Homo sapiens: one gene and its partner. The protein of the gene in region 2 purifies or fractionates together with the protein of the main gene of each other region. This does not show direct contact. Each region holds a gene or a part of one and is shown on either strand. Other genes may lie near its edges.

Evidence for each region.
Region 1: the proteins of CAPSL (region 2) and EML4 purify together in Homo sapiens (affinity purification with mass spectrometry; one large-scale study listed by BioGRID and IntAct). This does not show direct contact.

The regions. Positions count from the first base shown.
Region 1 is NC_000002.12:42,175,850-42,179,503, forward strand, and holds part of EML4 (echinoderm microtubule-associated protein-like 4), read left to right. Parts: intron 1-3,654. UniProt on the Homo sapiens protein: Essential for the formation and stability of microtubules (MTs). Required for the organization of the mitotic spindle and for the proper attachment of kinetochores to MTs. Promotes the recruitment of NUDC to the mitotic spindle for mitotic progression.
Region 2 is NC_000005.10:35,907,478-35,911,131, reverse strand, and holds part of CAPSL (calcyphosin-like protein), read left to right. Parts: intron 1-588; coding exon 589-766; intron 767-1,056; coding exon 1,057-1,266; intron 1,267-3,654.

The sequences.
Region 1 (3,654 bases), on a different chromosome or scaffold from region 2:
TAAATTATCTTTAGCCCATTTGTATGCAGCTGATGTTAACATGTTAATGTACTTGTTCTTAGTCTTTTCCTATGCTTAGTTTTTTAATAGTTAAAATCATACTGCAGACATAATTTTGCATTCTGTTTTTTTCGTTGGATCCTAACCTTTTTTTTTTTTTCCCACTTGAACTCAGATTTTTCTGATGGAGTCCAGTGGTCTTTTCTCTACTCCAATACTGACTCTTTATAACCCTCAGGTACATACCTGAATCTGAACTTCTCTCCTGAATCAGCTTCTTTTCCTTATTTCCCACTGACTGTATCACCCAGTTTGAAATTTCAGAATCATGTTTTGATTCTTTGCCATTTTTGCCTAGGGCATTAGAATCTCTTCTAAGACTTGTCAATTCTTGTCACCTTTTCTCATCCCTTTTCTTTTCCACCGCTATAGTTCAGGTACTTATTATTCGATGCGTGGATTATTGCATGGCGTCGAGAATCTCCACCTGTCCAGTTTATTTTGTACAGGGCCCTCAGATTTATCTTCCTAAAGCCATGCTTTGATTGTGCTATTCACCCTCTCAGATTGCTTCATTGCTTTAATGACTACATTCAAACATCTTAGCCTCTTAACATCTTCTCAAGTCCTCTGTCATCTCTTTCTACTGTCTTACCATGTTCTGACCAAAATGACCTATTTCTTATTCCTCACATTTTCATCTTTTCATCCTGATGACTATTCTCAGTACCCTTCAAGGCTCAACTCAAATATTATTTCCTTTCTAAAAATGTTTACTTCTTTTCATTCCCAGCCCAAAGTATTCTTCCGTGAACACTTGATAGGACCACTCTTGGGGTACTTATTGCAGAATGTTTATTCCAATAGTTATAAGGTGAAAGTAATTATTACAGATCTTACAATTGTTATGTCTTATTTCCCTGAGCCAAATTGGTTTTATTTTTATTTATTTATTTTTTTATGAGACAGAGTTTTGCTTTGTCGCCCAGGCTGGAGTGCAGTGGTATGATCTCAGCTCACTGCAACCTCTGCCTCCTGGGTTCAAGGAATTCTCCTGCCTCAGCCTTCCGACTAGGTGGTGTTACAGGTGTATGCCACCACACCCAGCTAATTTTTGTATTTTTAGTAGAGACGGGTTTCACCATGTTGGCCAGGCCTGTCTCAAACTCCTGACCTCAAGTGATCTGCCCGCTGAGGCCTCCCAGAGTGCTGGGGGATTGCAGGTACCATGCCTAAGCCAAATTATAAACCTCTTGAAGGCTGTATTGAAGGTTTTATTGAAGGCTGAAACTCTCATGTGTCTTTGAAGTCTTGCAGTGGAGATTTCATGATCCAGTAAAATGTGGAGGAAATAAATTAGGGACTAGTATATAGTTGACAACTTAACAACCTTCACTTTCATACCTCTTTTTTTTTTTAAAGAAATGACATTTGAAGACCAAAAGATTGTAATACACAATCTCAGAATAAAAAATTGTAAAATTACTTTGAAAATTAAATATGGCTCACGCCTGTAATCCCAACAGTTTGGGAGGCTGAGGCGGGCGGCTCACTTGAGCTCAGGAGTTTGAGACCAGCCTGGGCAACATGGTGAGAACCCGTCTCTACCAAAAGTACAAAAAAATTAGCCAGGCATGGTGGTGCACGCCTGTGGTCCCAGATACTCGAGAGGCTGAGGTGGGAGGATTGCTGGAGCCTGGGAGGTGGAGGTTGCAGTGAGCGCAGATCACACTACTGGGCTCCAACCTGGGTGACACAGCGAGACCCCGTCTCAAACAAGCAAACAGACAAACAAAAACTCATTATGTTCTTATTTCTCATTTCACCTGAAATAAGTGAAATGTTCTAGACTTTATTGGGAATCTGATAAAGAATTCTGTGCCAGATTCTAGGGTATTTTCAAGTACAAGTCATGTGCATGACCTGTTAATGGTTTTTGAAATCAGTTTAGTCGTGGTCAGGACCAACATTAGAAAAATGAGGAGAAGAGGAAGAGATAATGTAAAATATCAGTACTTCGTGTGATATTGCTTCATGGAACATTTAATTTCAGTTACATATATTTGTCTTAGATTTCAGTGTAAAATTTCTGTTGGTCACAATCAGATGAAAGATACATTTTTAGTGGCTAATCCCTATCTTTGAGAGAATAGGTGGAAAGGTTGACATACATGAAAAGGTGGATGAACAATCAGAAGTAATCATTGCGGGCTATGTCTTTGACAAGTTTTTAGAATCTGAATATAATTAGAATATGTTTAACAGCAGCAGCAGCAGAAAGATATTTATTAGTTGTAGAATCAGTGTAATTCAGGCAAACTCAGTATGTAAAGAAGTGATTTTATAAAATTGGTAGGGCTAGGGTATGTTTACCTTGCAAATCAATTCTTTACTTTGAAAGAGAATTTTCAGGCCAGGTGGTATAGCTCACACCTATAATCCTAGCACTTTGGGAGGCCAGGGTAGGAATATCACTTGAGGCCTGGAGTTCAAGACCAGTCTGGGCAACATAGTGAGACCCTGTCTCTACCAAAAAAAAAAAACAAACAAAAATTAGCTGAACGTGGTGGTGCATGCCCAGCTCCTTGAGAGGCTGAGGTGAGAGGATCGCTTGAGCCCAGGAGGTGGAGGCTGCAGTGAGCTATGATATGCCACTGCACTCCAGCCTGGGCAGCAGAGCGAGCAGCGAGACCCTGTCTCAAATAAGAAAGAGGATTTTCCTTGTTTGTAGTGTGGTGAGTATCCCCCGTGTGGTGCCTGTCACGTGAGAGATCCCTGGGAGCCAAAAACAACAACTGCAAAAAAGAGGATTTACCATATTGCTGTATTTTATTTTTAAGCTGATCTGATGGAGTTGTCTGTGTCTTGACTGGTTCCCCACTTATTTGCTGAAATACATTTTTTCCCCAGGAAGCTGTCCCTGATTGGTACACTCAAACCATTGCACTATAGCGCTTCTAAAGTGGAGGGGGCTGAGCACTTACACCTAAGGGATCTGGGAGTGTAGGCAAAAGTTGAAATCTATTTAACTTTAAAATTTATATGATTGTTTTGCATCCATTATAATAAAGATTTGTTTAGACAGGAATCATCAATAGGTGCTAAATCTAGGGGGATATTTTGGTGAGAAGCAGGTTGTCTGCATGGTCTTAAATTTCCCCCCATATAATGCTTATTACTTGTAAGGGGGGGAAACAGTAACTCAATATGGTGGTGAAATCAGACAACACCTTGTGTGCATGATCAAAATAAATATCACCAATGGATTTGTGTGTCTCTGCATGTGATACCCAGAAAAGAGCACATCAGTTACAGTGTTTTTCAGCCATGAATTCATAGCCTGAATCTAATCATGAGGAAATTTTAAACTCCAGATGGGGAACATCCTATTTTTTAAAACGTCGGGGAGCTGGGTTTTTTTTTTTTTTTTAATATTATAAAGACAAAGTCTGTGGAAACATTCCAGACTAAAGAAGACTTAAGAGATGTGGTAACTAAATGAACTACCTGATTTTAGACTGGATCTTGTATAGAGGGGAAAATACAATAAAGGATATTATTGGATCACTTGGCAAAATTGGCATGTGGATGGTGGTAAGTATTGCATTAATGTTTATTGAACTTGGTAACTGTCTTCAGGTTATGTAAGAGAAT
Region 2 (3,654 bases):
ATCATTTATTTAACCAGTATGGATGTAGGGATTTCTTTTTTATATTTTGGGTTATAATCCAGCATAGTTTTATTGGTTTAATTGTTCCAGCCTTGATCTTGAGAGCTATTTAAGTTGGCTCCTATATCCCTAACATAGCCACATCACTGTGATTTTCTGACTTCCTAAATCATTTTTTTAAAATTGATATGCATTAAGGTTTACACCTTGCTCTGTAAAGTGCTATGGGTTTTAGCAAATGCATAATGTCATGTATCCACCATCATAGTATTATAAAGGATAGTTTCTTTGACCTAAAAATCCCATGTTTCACCAATTCAACTCTTTCCTTTACCTTTCATCTTTTTACTGTCTCCACAGTTTTGTCTTTTGCAGAATGTCATGTAATTAGAATTATACTTTGTGTGTGTGTTTGTGTGTGTGTGGTGGGAAGAGGCTCTCCAGTTTTGGAAAGGAGGGTGCAGAGAAGAATTTAAGACTTTTGTATTTTAATTTGACGAAACCTTGAGTGTGGATTTTTTTTTAATCTTTACACTTACACCTGTTATTTGTACATTTCTTCTGAATTTTTGTGTGTATTTTCTTCAGAGTGTTTAGAATTATGGATGACGATAATAATCGAACCCTTGATTTTAAAGAATTTATGAAAGGGTTAAATGATTATGCTGTGGTCATGGAAAAAGAAGAGGTGGAAGAACTTTTCCGGAGGTTTGATAAAGATGGAAATGGAACAATAGACTTCAATGAATTTCTTCTCACATTAAGAGTAAGTGGCCCCATTAATCAGTGTATCTGCTGAGTTTGGCTTTCACGTGGTTTGGGTTGGCTACCTTGAGGTTTTGTTTTTACAAGTTGTTAGTACACTGTGGGGAGGGGGATAAGCAGAAAACTGTGAACAGACTTAGGAATTTTTGGAGCAATTGTAGTGTCTATTACATAATAGCACACAAATATTATTTCACATCGTTGAGGGGAATGAGATATTTTATCACATAGGATACCAAAAAAGCTCATTTGCTTATGTATGTCTCTGTATGTATTCTTCTATTTTTGTAGCCTCCAATGTCCAGAGCCAGAAAAGAGGTAATCATGCAAGCTTTTAGAAAGTTAGACAAGACTGGAGATGGTGTTATAACAATCGAAGACCTTCGTGAAGTATATAATGCAAAACACCACCCAAAGTACCAGAATGGGGAATGGAGTGAGGAACAAGTATTTAGGAAATTTCTGGATAACTTTGATTCACCCTATGACAAAGATGGATTGGTAAGTAAAAGAGCCTAATCTAGGGGAAATTTCTTCAATTCGAAATTGTAAATGGGAAATAGGTCCAAACTCTTAAAAATGTTAACACATTGATACCATATTTGTTGTAAATAGAAGTAAACTATTTCCCTAGGAACAATCTAGAAACTTCTCCATTGCCAGGGGAAACCTTCATGTTACTTTAGTTGAAACCTAATGTATGTTTGTGCACGCACACACTCATAGACATATATTGAAATATATTGGTAGGGGATCCACATAAGTGATGACCTGTCATCTGGGGAATGTGATGTTCTGATTAAACATGCCATTTTATGGTTACTATATTTACCATACTCAGCTAGTTGCACTCCAGTGAACTGATTATAATAAAATATATTTAACTTTGAAATGAGATCATAATTTAATTTTGGAGAACAGATTTACAAGGCCTTTCAGGATGTTTTAGTGCCTTCACACTCATCCTCATTCATCTTCACACTTTGCTATGTGGAAATGCCATTTAAAGGTAGTTTTTGGTAAAGGGAATGTCAAATAACAGAATTTACTCTGATTTATTCTTTAGTGTGCTTTGAGATTAACTTACATTTCTAAACTGCACTGAATTTGAAAACAAAATCAACCGCCCATCTCCATTAACTTTTATCTTCAAGTTACAAATGCATAGCTTGGTAGGGTAAGGAATTATATAGCTCCATGACTGTGTCTAGGCTGAGATGAAAATGTCATCTGTCCTTTATCAACAGCCCTAAATTGACTTTTTAGAAAAAAAAAAAAAACCCTGAGCCAGTTCTGTTCTTAGATGATCTAAGGGTTTTGGTGATAAGGAAAGGGGATTGTCCCTTGAGTAACAGTCAGCAGCAGCACAGCCCCAGGGTTCATTGTCTCTTAAGCCCTTTACAGCACAGGAAAAGATAAGTGGCCCAGTGGACAAGAAGAGAGTGGTTAAGGGAAGAAGAAATAAACCTTCCTCTTCTGAAGGGAATGTGCTCCAACTTTTTAAATGAAACTTCATGATGAGTCTCATTAGCAAGGGGTGGGGGATAGGAAGGTGACCTTTCTGTTCTTCCTGCTGACATTTCCCTTTCAGGGATGGAGACATACCCTCTATTTCAGGCTGAGGATTGTGGAGGCAGGTTTACAAAAGGGCCAAAATTCAATAGGGCAGCCAAAATCTTAGGGACAGAAATAAAAACTACATGTTTTCTTCCAGTATTGCTGGCCTTGATCACTGAGATGTCAGTGGAAAAATAGCCAACTGCCATTTCCCCAAATTAGCCCACCCCTTTGTGGATCCTAGAGTGTGTCTGCTTCCTCTCTGCAGGTGGTTCCTCCTCATTGCCAGGGGAAACCTCAGCTACCCTTTTCTCTAACAAAAGTCAAAATAGCCAGTTGTGATTCGGCTGATTCAAGTCTGCACATCACCCCTTTTGATATTTATCTTAAGAAGCCACATTAAGCTCTCAAAAGCTCATAAAGGTTATTGAGGTTTTTAGCAGTTATAGCACTTGATGTCATCTGCATGTTACAGACCCTGTATTGATACCCAACTCTGGCTGTTCATAATCATCATCAGGGAGGATTTATTAGTAATGTAGATTCCTAGCTGCACTGCAGAACCACAGAATCTGATTTTTTGGAGGATGGAGTCCAAGGCTTTACATTTTAATGTGTACCAGATGACTCTTACACTCACGTGTATTTGTGATCCTTAGCTCTAAAAGATTCAGAAATAACTGTTTTAAAATTACTAAATATAATATACACATGACCCCATTTAGCATAATAATGAATCTGGGCAACACTTTTTGAGCACATATCAACTGGGCATTTGCTAAGGGCTTACCAGGGATATCTCATTTAATAGACATAATAAAAGTGTTTCTGAAAAGTGATGTGTAATTCAAACTTTCGCACACTGAATTGTATTTTAAATGCACAAGAAATTGTTGTTGTAGAGGAACTCCATGGTAAATTCTTTTATGAGAAGAATAATTAGCTTCTAAAATTTACCTCTTGCAAATTGCACTATTTTGCATATTAAGATTGCTTGTGGTGAAGCATAGCTGTACTTGAAGCCAGTGTGCTCATTTATGGTTAAAAACATCCCATATAAGACAAAATTTAAAATAATGCAAAAAATTTAGCATAGCTCCTAGCTAAAGGTAATGTTCAAACTTGATAATCTAGGTTAAACTCTCAAATACCCATAAAGGTTGCTGGAGTTTCAGCAGTCACGGAATTTGATGTCATAAATCTTGCACTAATACCTCACTGGACTCCCATAGCAGCCGGAAGCCATTTGGATGGAGGTGTGAAGCAATCAGATAACCTGTGACACAGACTTTCCTTACCCCTTTTCTATCACTAAACCCCACCACAATTTGG